Regions from separate parts of the Homo sapiens genome. Here region 2 is reported to be linked to region 1. Evidence: microRNA targets listed by miRTarBase, many of them from high-throughput screens and not tested one by one. Region 1 holds a microRNA gene; the other region holds the end of a gene's coding sequence.

Region 1 (5,075 bases):
AAAAAGCGAGACTTAATTTGAAAAAAAAAAAAAGTGTCTTTGTAGATGTGATTAAATTAAGGATCTCCAGATGAGGGGATCATCTTGGATTATCTGTGTGGAACCTAAATCCAATGACACGTGTCCTTATATGAGACACAGAGGAGAAGACACACAGAGCAAAGGAAATGTGAAAACAGGCAGGAGAAGTCTGGGCAACATGGCAAGAACCCATCTCTACAAAAACACAAAAATTAGCTGGGTGTGGTGGCATGTGCGTGTAGTCCCAGTTACTTGGGAGATTGAGGCAAGGGGGTCGCTTGAACCTAGGAGTTCGAAGCTGCAATGAGCTGAGACGGCACCACTGCACTCTAGCCTGGGCGACAGAGGGAGACCCTGTCTCAAAAACAAAAAGAAAGCAAACAGGCAGAGAATTGAGTGATGCGGCTGCAAGCCAGGAAACACCTAGAGGCACGAGAAGCTGGAAGAGGCAAGGAAGGGTCCTCCCCTGGCGCCTTCGGAGGGAACGTGGTAGTTCTAATGCTTTGATTTAGGACTTCTGGACTCCAGAACTGTGAGAGAATACGTTTCTGGGTTTTTGTTTTTTGTTTTGGGTTTTTGTTGTTGTTGTTGTTGTTTGGTACAGCATCTCACTCTGTTGCCCAGGCTGCAGGGCAGTGGTGCGATCATGGCTCACTGCAGCCTCGACCTCCCAGGCTCAAGCAGTCCTCCCACCTCAGCCTCCCAAGTAGCTAGGACTACAGGTGAACACCAGCACACCTGGCTAATTTAAAACAATGTGTTTTTTTGTTTGTTTTTTTTTTTTGAGACAGGGTCTCACTTTGTCCCCCAGGCTTGAGTGCAGTGGCAGGATTGTGGCTCACTGCAGCTTTGACCTCCCAGGTTCAAGCAATCCTCCTGTCTCAGCCCCCTAAGTAACTGGGGCTACAGGCACATGCCACCATGCCCAGCTAAATTTTTGTATTTTTTGTAGAGATGGGGTTTCTCCATGTTGCCCAGGCTGGTGTCCAACTCCTGAGCTCAAGCAATCCACCTGCCTTGGCCTCCCAAAGTGCTGGGATTATAGGACTGAGCCACCACACCTGACCTAAAAACTTTTTTTATAGAGATCGAGTCTCACTACACTGCCCAGGCTGGTCTCCAACTCCTGGGCTCAAGTGATCCTCCCTCTTCCACCTCCGAAAGTGTTGGGATTACAGGCGTGAGCCACTATGCCCAGCTAGTTTTGTTTCAAGTCACCAAGTTTGTGGCAATTCGTTATAGTAGCTACAGGAAATCAGCACACCTTTCCCTGCCTCCCTGTCTTTAACTTAGAAAGTGGACAGCAAGGCCAGGCGTGGCTCACACCTGTAATCCCAGCACTTTGGGAGGCCGAGGGGGGCAGATCACGAGGTCAAGAGATCGAGACCATCCTGGCCAACATGATGAAACCCCATCTCTACTAAAAATACAAAAATTAGCCAAGTGTAGTGGCACATGCCTGTAGTCCCAGCTACTTGGGAGGCTGAGGCAGGAGAATCGCTTGAACCCTGGAGGCAGAGGCTGCAGTGAGCCGAGATCACGCCACTGCACTCCAGCCTGACAACACAGCTAGACTCAATCTCAAAAAAAAAAAAAAAAAAAAAAGAAGAAGAAGAAAAAGGGGACAGCACTGGCCAGGCACAGTGGCTCACACTGTAATCCCAGCACTTTGGGAGGCCAACGTGGGTGGATCACCTGAGGTCAGGAGTTCGAGACCAGCCTGGCCAACATGGTGAACCTTTGTATCTACTAAAAATACAAAAATTAGCTGGGCATGGTGTCAGGTGCCTGTAGTCCCAGCTACTAAGGAGGCTGAGGCAGGAGAATTGCTTGAACCTGGGAGGCAGAGATTGAAGTGAGCTGAGATTTTGCCACCGCACTCCAGCCTGGGTGACAGAGCGAGAATCCGTCTCAATAAAAGAAAAAAGAAAAGAAAGGGGACAGCAATAATATGTCAGCTTCATTTGGGTTGTTGGAAGGATCCAGAAGGTTTAGAGTGCTTAGCACGTGTAAGGAACAAGGATGAGAAGGTTATGGCACAGACTCGAGGCCAGACTGCGCAGGTCTGACCCTGAATTTACCTTCACCAGCTGCCTGGCTTTGGGTGAGCCTTTTAACCTCTCTGTGCCTCAGTTTCCTCATTTGTAAAATAAGATAATAAAATTTACCTCTTAGGATGTTATAAGGCAGAAGTTCTGAAACTTTTTGGCCTCAGAGCCCCTTTACACTAAAACAATATTTAAAGAGTTTTTGTTTGTTTGTTTGTTTTTGTTTTTTTTTGTTTGTTTTTTTGAGACAGAGTCTCACTCTGTTGCCCAGGCTGGAGTGAAGAGGCATGACCTTGGCTCACTGCAACCTCCGTCTCCTGAGTTCAAGGAATTCTCGTGCCTCAGCCTCCCTAGTAGCTCGTATTACAGGCACGGGCCACACACCGGCTAATTTTTATATTTTTAGTAGAGACAGGATTTCACCATGTTGGGCAGGCTGGTCTCAAACTCCCGATCTGAGGTGATCCGCCCACCTCAGCCTCCCAAAGTGCTAGGATTACAGGCGTAAGCCACTGTGTCTAGCCTTGAAAGAGCTTTTGTTAGGTGAGTTATATCTGCTCATATCTACTGTAAATAGAAATTTATAATCCCAGCTAACTCAGGAGGCTGAAGTGGGAGGACCGCTTGAGCCCAGGAGTTTGAGGCTGCAGTGAGCTACGATCGCACCACTGCACTACCTTGGGCAACAGAACTAGACCCTGAAAAGAAAGAAAGAAAGAAAGAGAGAGAGAGGGAGGGAGGGAGGGAGGGAGGGAGGGAGGGAGGGAGAGAGAAAGAGAGAGAAAGGAAAGAAAGAAAGAAAGAAAGAAAGAAAGAAAGAAAGAAAGAGAAAGGAAAGGAAAGGAAAGGAAGAAAGAAAGGGGAGGGGAGGGGAGGGAAGGGAAGAAGAAGAAAAAGAAAAGAAAAGAAAAGAAATTTAAACTGATGCTTTAAAAAATATTAATTAAAAAATAGTCCGGGAGGATGGCTTATGCCTGTAATCCCAGCACTTTGGGAGGCTGAGGCAGGCAGATTGCCTGAGGTCAGGAGTTCGAGATCAGTCTGGCTAACATGGTGAAACCCCCTCTCTACTAAAAATACAAAAAAATCGGCCAGGCATGGTGGCATGCGCCTGTAATCCTAGCTACTTGGGGGCTGAGGCAGGGAAATTGCTTGAACCTGGGAGGTCGAAGCTGCAGCGAGCTGAGATCGAGCCACTGCACTCTAGCCTGGCGACAGAGGGAGACTCTGTCTCCAAAAAAAAAAAAAAAAATTAGTAAACACATTACACGTTAACATAAATTTTTTTAACTTTTTATTTTTTTAGAAACAGTCTACCTACATTGCTCAGGCTAGACTAGAACTCTTGAACTCAAGGGATCCTCCCACTGGAGTAGCTGGAACTACAGGCTCACGCCACCGTGCTAGATAACGTATGAGTTTTTTTGTTGTTTTTGAGACAGGGTCTCCCTATGTCACCCAGGTTGGAGTGCAGTGGTGTAATCACAGCTCACTGCAACCTCTGCTCCCTGGGACTCAAGTCATCCTTCCACCTCAGTCTCCCGAGTAGCTGGGACTACAGGCACTTGCCACCAGAGTCGGGTAATTTTTATTTAATTAATTAATTAATTTATTTATTTATTTATTTTGAGACAGAGTCTCGCTTTGTCACCCAGGCTGGAGTGCAGTGGCACGATCTCGATCTCAGCTCACTGCAACCTCTGCCTCCCGGGTTCAAGTGATCCTCCTGCCTCAGCCTCCTGAGTAGCTGGGATTACAGGCGCCTGCCACCACGCCTGGCTAATTTTTTTTTTTTTTTGTATTTTTAGTAGAGATGAGGTTTCACCATGTTGGCCAGGCTGATCTTGAACTCCTGACCTCAACTGATCTGCCCCCCTTGGCCTCCCAAAGTGCTGGGATTACAGGCATAAGTCACTGCAACCAGACTTTTTTTTAAATAGAGACGGGGTTTTGCCATGCTGCCCAGGCTGGTCTCGAAATCTTGGGCTCAAGTGATCCTCCAGCCCTGGCCTCCCAAAGTGCTAGGATTACAAGCATGAGCCACTGTGGCCAGGAGTATTTATTTTTATTTTTTATTTTTCTGAGACAGAGTTTCGCTCTGTCGCCCAGTTTGGAGCATAGTGGTGTGATCTCAACTCACTGCAACCTCTGCCTCCCAGGCTCAAGGGATCTTCCCACCTCAGCCTCCCAAATACCTGGGACTACAGGCTCTCACCACCACGTCTGGCTAATTTTTTTATTTTACTTTTTTTTTTTTCTTTTTTTTTTTTGAGACGGAGTTTCGCTCTTGTTGCCCAAGCTGGAGTGCAGTGGCACGATCTTGGCTCACTGCAACCTCTGCCTCCCAGGCTCAAATGATTCTCGCGCCTCAGCCTCTTGAGTAGCTGGGATTACAGGCACATGCCACCATGTCTGGCTAATTTTTGTATTTTTAGTAGAGGCGTGGTTTCACCATGTTGGCCAGGCTGGTCTCGAACTCCTGAGCTCTAGAAATTTTCCCACCTCGGCCTCCCAAAGTGCTGGGATTACAGGCGTGAGCCACCCCGCCTGGCCTTAATTTTTTTTTTTTTACTATTTATTTATTTATTTATTGTATTATATTATTATTTTGAGATGGAGTCTTGCTCTGTCACCCAGCCTGCAGTGCAGTGGCGCGATTTCGGCTTGCTGCAACCTCCGCCTCCCGGGTTTAAGCAACTCTCTGCCTCAGCCTCCTGAGTAGCTGGGATTACAGGCATGCGCCACCATGCCCGGCTAATTTTTGTATTTTTAGTAGAGACGGGGTTTCACCACCTTGGCTAGGCTGGTCTTGAACTCCTGACCTCGTCCACCTCAGTCTCCCAAAGTGCTGGGATTACAGGCGTGAGCCACCGCGCCCGGCCAACTTTTAGATTTTTAATCAATACGTGCCACGTTGGGGTGCGCTTTATGGCTACAAGGGCATTAAGATTTCTTCCCTCAAGGAGCCAAGATCTGACGGTGGAAACCTACCTGCAACCACACGGT
Region 2 (5,073 bases), not on the chromosome of region 1:
TCTGAGGATGAGAGGGAAGGTAAAATATATCGTCAGAAACTAAAACTGCACTATTGACAATATTAGGAGTTTTACAAAAATTATAAGAAATACTATGTACAACTCTATAGCAATATATTCAGAAAAAGGGAATGGTTGATTTTCTTGAAAAGTATAAATTATCCAAATTGTTTCCTGAGAAAGTAGCAAACCTGAAAAGATAACTCTAAAGGAAATTGATAAAGCAATCAAAGAGCTATTTCCAAAGCAAACCCAGATAGTTGTATAAATGAGTTCAACACATCTTGCAGAAACGGCTAATTCCTTTATTATTCAAATTTGGGGGGGGGCATAGAAGATGATAAGCTTGCCAATTTATTTTATAAGGCTAGCAGAACCATACTCCTAAACCAAACTAAGATAATACAATTAAAAAACAAAATCAGGCTGGTACAGTGACTCATGCCTGTAATCCCAGCACTTTGGGAGGCCGAGTCAGGCAGATCACCTGAGGTTGGGAGTTCAAGACCAGCATGGCCAACATGGGGAAAACCCGTCTCTATTACAAATACAAAAATTAGCCAGGCGTGGTGGTGGGTGCCTGTAATTCCAGCTACTCGGGAGGCTGAGGTGAGAGAATCACTGGAACCCAGGAGGCGGAGGTAGCAGTGAGCTGAGATTGTGCCACTCTACTCCAGCCTGGGTGACAGAGTGAGGCTCTGCCATAAATAAATTAAAATAAAATAAAAACAAAGTCACACATTATTCATGAATACAGATCCAAAACTTTTTGAAGTTTGACAAAATGAACAAATAGAATTCTAGAATACATGTACTGTGACATGTAATTCTCAGGATGCAATGTTTTAGGTTTAGAGAGCCTATTCAAAGTTTTATGTGTTGAATCCTCCTTTTCCTTATTCAATTAACAGACGTTCTTCCTTTCATCAAAAAGTTTCACTGTTAAATATATGCCAGGCACTGGATCCTGGGAATGCAGTGATGAATAAGATAAGGTCTGTCTTCATAGAGCTGTCTACAGAGACAGACAAGTAAAAAGAAAATTATAATACAGTCTAAAGGCTATGATAAAAGAAAAAGATATTTGGGGAATACATAACTTGGCACTGAATCTGGATTTCAGAGCTCTGGAAAGGCTTTCTAGAGGAAGTAATGCATAGATTGAGCAGTGAAGGGCAGTTACTATGAGAACTAAAGTGGGGAAGTCATCAGAGGAGACTGAAGTAGCACATGCCAAATAGGGGTCATATTAAGTTGAGAATTTTGTACTTAAGTCAGAGGCCACTGAAGCTTTATTCAGGCGAGTGACAGATTTACATCTTCAATTCTTAAGAGTGTGGAATAAATTTGAGGAAAGAAGACTGGAAGCAGGAAAACATTAGGGTGTTCTTGGAATAATCCTCTTGAGAAAATTGCCTACTCTAAGATGGTAGCAGTAGGTATGGGGAAAGTGGGCACACACAACATAATTAGAAAGTGGTATAAAAATTTTATTTTAGATGGGGAAAGGTAGAAAATACTAGGTTAAGTATAAAGGGATTTCTTTACCTATAGTACTTGTCAGAAATTTTATGGTGCTGTTTTTGAGTAAAAGAAAGTCACACAGTAACACAAAATGGCTTCCAAACATTTGATTTTTTTTTTCTTTTTTTTAGAAGACTTTATGAGACACTAGCATTCCACAGGAAACACTATGGGAGAAACTGTTCTCCCACAAAAATAATCTCTTCTTCCTTTCTGTTCTTGCAGCTGTCAATATAGATGAAGCATCCCAAATCTGAAATCTGAAATGCTCCAAAATATGAAACTTTTTGAGTGCCAATACAGATGTGACACTCAGGGGAAAGGCTCATTGGAGCACTGTGGATTTCCGGACCTGGGATGCTCAACTGGCAAGCATTAATGCAAATATTCCAGAACCCAAAACACTTCTCAAGCATTTTGAATAAGGGATGCTCAAACCTGTACTTCTGAGTTGTCTCACCAACTATATTCAATTTTTTAAGGCTGTCTTGTCCTGTCCCTTTACACAATACATGTATTTAGTTTGGTTACTTTCAGCTCACTGAAAGTGAAGTGAAAAAGAAGATTCACCAGAACTTCACAAGCTTCCCTCAAAAAGCCATTGAAAAAGATTATTCTGAGTCAGGGTCATCTGTTAACCAATATAAAAGGATCCGACCCACAGATAACGTTGTAATAAAGCAGTATTAGGCCAGGCGCGGTGGCTCACACCTGTAATTCCAGCACCTCGGTAGGCCAAGGTAGGTGGATCACTTGAGGTCAGGAGTTTGAGACCAGCCTGGCCAATGTGGTGAAACCCCATCTCTACTAAAAATACAAAAACTAGCCAGGCGTGGTGGTGGGTGCCTGTAATCCCAGCTACTCGGGAGGCTAAGGCAGGAGAATCACTTGAACCCGGGATATGGAGGTTGCAGTGACCTGAGATCCCGCCATTGCACTCTAGCCTGGGTGTCGTAGCAAGACTCTGTCTCAAAAAAAAAACAAAAACAAACATGCAGTATTAATCTTCGTTAACATCTACAAACCTACTAAGTTTTCATATGGATAAGATACCCAAAAATAATAATCTCATTGGAAACAAATTCTGTGAAAATGCTTAAGCAAACAAATTGTTTATCTTAATTCTATAGTGAGTAGTTGAATAGCTACATTTACTTAGAAACAGAAAAACTGAATTCATTTATAAACAGGAAATCTAAGTGTACTTTAACTCCTAGAGACCACTGAGGGTAACTAAAGTACTCCAAGCTATAATCGAGGGGTCACTGAAAATCTGATTGTGAAACATCATGCTCTATATGTACAAAAGATGTATTTCAGGATGCTCAAAATTAAAGAACTGATATTCTAAACAGCAGGCAATCAGTGAATAAAAGTATGTTAATTCTTTGTGTACAATGTCTCTGAAGTCAGTGACATAAAAAAAAAAAAATAACACACACCCTTCCTTTTATATTTTCAGTATATTAAAAAGGAACAGTACAAATGCTGTGGTATTAAAAAGGATCCTTATTTTTCAACAAATGAACTTTTATAAACAATTCTGTAATGAAATGAAAACAGTATCTTAATACAAGCTTTTGTTAAACAAGATTTTAAAATTTTAAAATTAGAAAACGTTAAGATTAAACTCTTTCAAAGGTTCAAACAAAAAAACAACCTGTACAATCTCCATTACATGTGTCTTTGTACACAGTCTGGGCACTTTGAAAATGTTAAAGTTTTTAACGTTTGACTGACAGAAGCAGCACTTAAAGGCTTCATGAATCTATTTTCCAAAAAAGTATGCTTTCAGTAAAACATTTTACCATTTTATCTAACTATGCACTGACATTTTTGTTCTTCCTGAAAAGGGGATTTATGCTAACACTGTATTTTTAATGTAAAAATATACGTGTAGAGATATTTTAACTTCCTGAGTGACTTATACCTCAAATGGGATTTAATGAACAATTTCTAAATTTTAGAATGAAACAGTATGTGTAAATCTACACATGTATGTTCAACTAGGGTAAAGCTCAAGAGCATGTCACAGAATTTATACCTAAATTATATAAGAAGTTAAGCAATGCCTTTATCCCCAAACTTTACCAATAAGCCTTCTCAAATAGAATGTTAGTAAAGTGAATCACTGAAAAGTTTCATTTTTGAATTAACTAAAATACCAGTAGCCATTTTAGACTGTCAACCTGGATGTTTTCTTGATTCACTAGCAAGAAATTTCTTGCAATACAAAAAGATAACAAATAATTAAAATATCTGCTTTATCATACAACTTCACCCCCTCCTAAAGTGTCTAAAATGATTAGGAATTGTAGCACTTTCTTTTGCATAAAACCCTTTCCTCTTCATAAAACCCTGAGGTGAAAGGTTATTAATGTAATAAAACCGCAATTCATTTTGTATTAAACTGTAGCTTTAAAAAAATTTATAAAGAAATGTGACAACTTGTAAAGCTGCTCTGTACAGTTTTTCAACAAAATATTTCCATATCAACTTAGTCAAAGGGCCTAAAATGACCCTATAAAAACAATGTCCTTTTAACATGTGTTAGTGTCGAGATGAGCGCCATTTTCCATCTCTACTACTGTCTCTTCTGTTATCATAGTCATGGCTCCAGTCATCATGATTCCTGTCTTCATAGAAGAAATCATCTCTCTTTCCTCTGTAATGATGGTCAGACCCATGATCAGTGTAACGCTGTTCCCGGCTATAATGTCTATCTGCTAGGTAGGGATAAGAATTCATTCTGACTTTACGCTGTGATGATGGTGTACCTTGGCGCCACTGGGAGCTTGAAGACTGATTGAAACTATGACTGTGTGATTGAACTGATGGTGAAAATCCTGATTGATCCAGAGGTGAAGAACCAAATTTTCCACCATATGACATTTGTCTCAAAGCACTGTTCATCTGAGGAATAGGAAAAGTGGAAATGTTAATACTTCTAGATATCAAAGCTAATATGTATTTGGTCAGTTAACAGAAAATGAAAGAAAATAAAGTCACTCTTGCCTAGATGGATCCACAACTAAAGCAGTACAATAGCTTCAATCATTCCAATGTATACCTACAAGATACATATATATACATAAATACTACTCTTTGTCCTCAAGAATGCAACTCAGAATAAGTCACACAAAATGACTATAATGCAAAATCACTGTGTAAAAAACAAAGAATCAGGAGATCAGTATCATTAGGAAAGGTTTCATGAAGGTGGCATATGATCTGGGTATTAAAACAATGGATGGAATATTTTCATATTTTAAGGGAGAGATATGCCAAGAAAAGGAAATTGCACAAACAAAAATAACAGGGAAACACAGAACAGGTTCATAGAATACCAAGTAATTCTTTGAGACAGGTTACAGATCTCGGCTCACTGCAAGCTCCACCTCCCGGGTTCAAGCGATTCTCCTGCCTCAGCCTCCCAAGTAGCTGGGACTACAGGCCTGTGCCACCACGCCCGGCTAATTTTTGTATTTTTAGTAGAGACGGGGTTTCACCATCTTGGCCAGGCTGGTCTCGAACTCCTGACCTCGTGAT

Evidence for each region. The annotated mature microRNA hsa-miR-3908 reads GAGCAAUGUAGGUAGACUGUUU and lies in region 1 at 3,376-3,397, opposite strand. An mRNA with a match to its seed (bases 2 to 7 or 8) in the 3' UTR can be bound and repressed. Matches are read on the target gene's strand: a 7mer-m8 pairs with bases 2 to 8, a 7mer-A1 pairs with bases 2 to 7 and ends in A, and an 8mer does both.
Region 2: miRTarBase lists RBM7 as a target of hsa-miR-3908. Seed matches in the 3' UTR shown: 7mer-m8 at 3,589-3,595.

What each region holds. Positions count from the first base shown.
Region 1 is chr12:123,534,735-123,539,809 of GRCh38, reverse strand. It overlaps MIR3908 (microRNA 3908), which reads right to left and starts at 3,401; the gene lies at 3,276-3,401.
Region 2 is chr11:114,406,809-114,411,881 of GRCh38, reverse strand. It overlaps RBM7 (RNA binding motif protein 7), which reads right to left. Exons shown (of 5, transcript NM_001286045.2): 5 at 1,275-4,437. The coding sequence ends at 4,075. Among named protein-coding and RNA genes, the nearest start is that of RBM7, 8.7 kb to the right of the region's middle.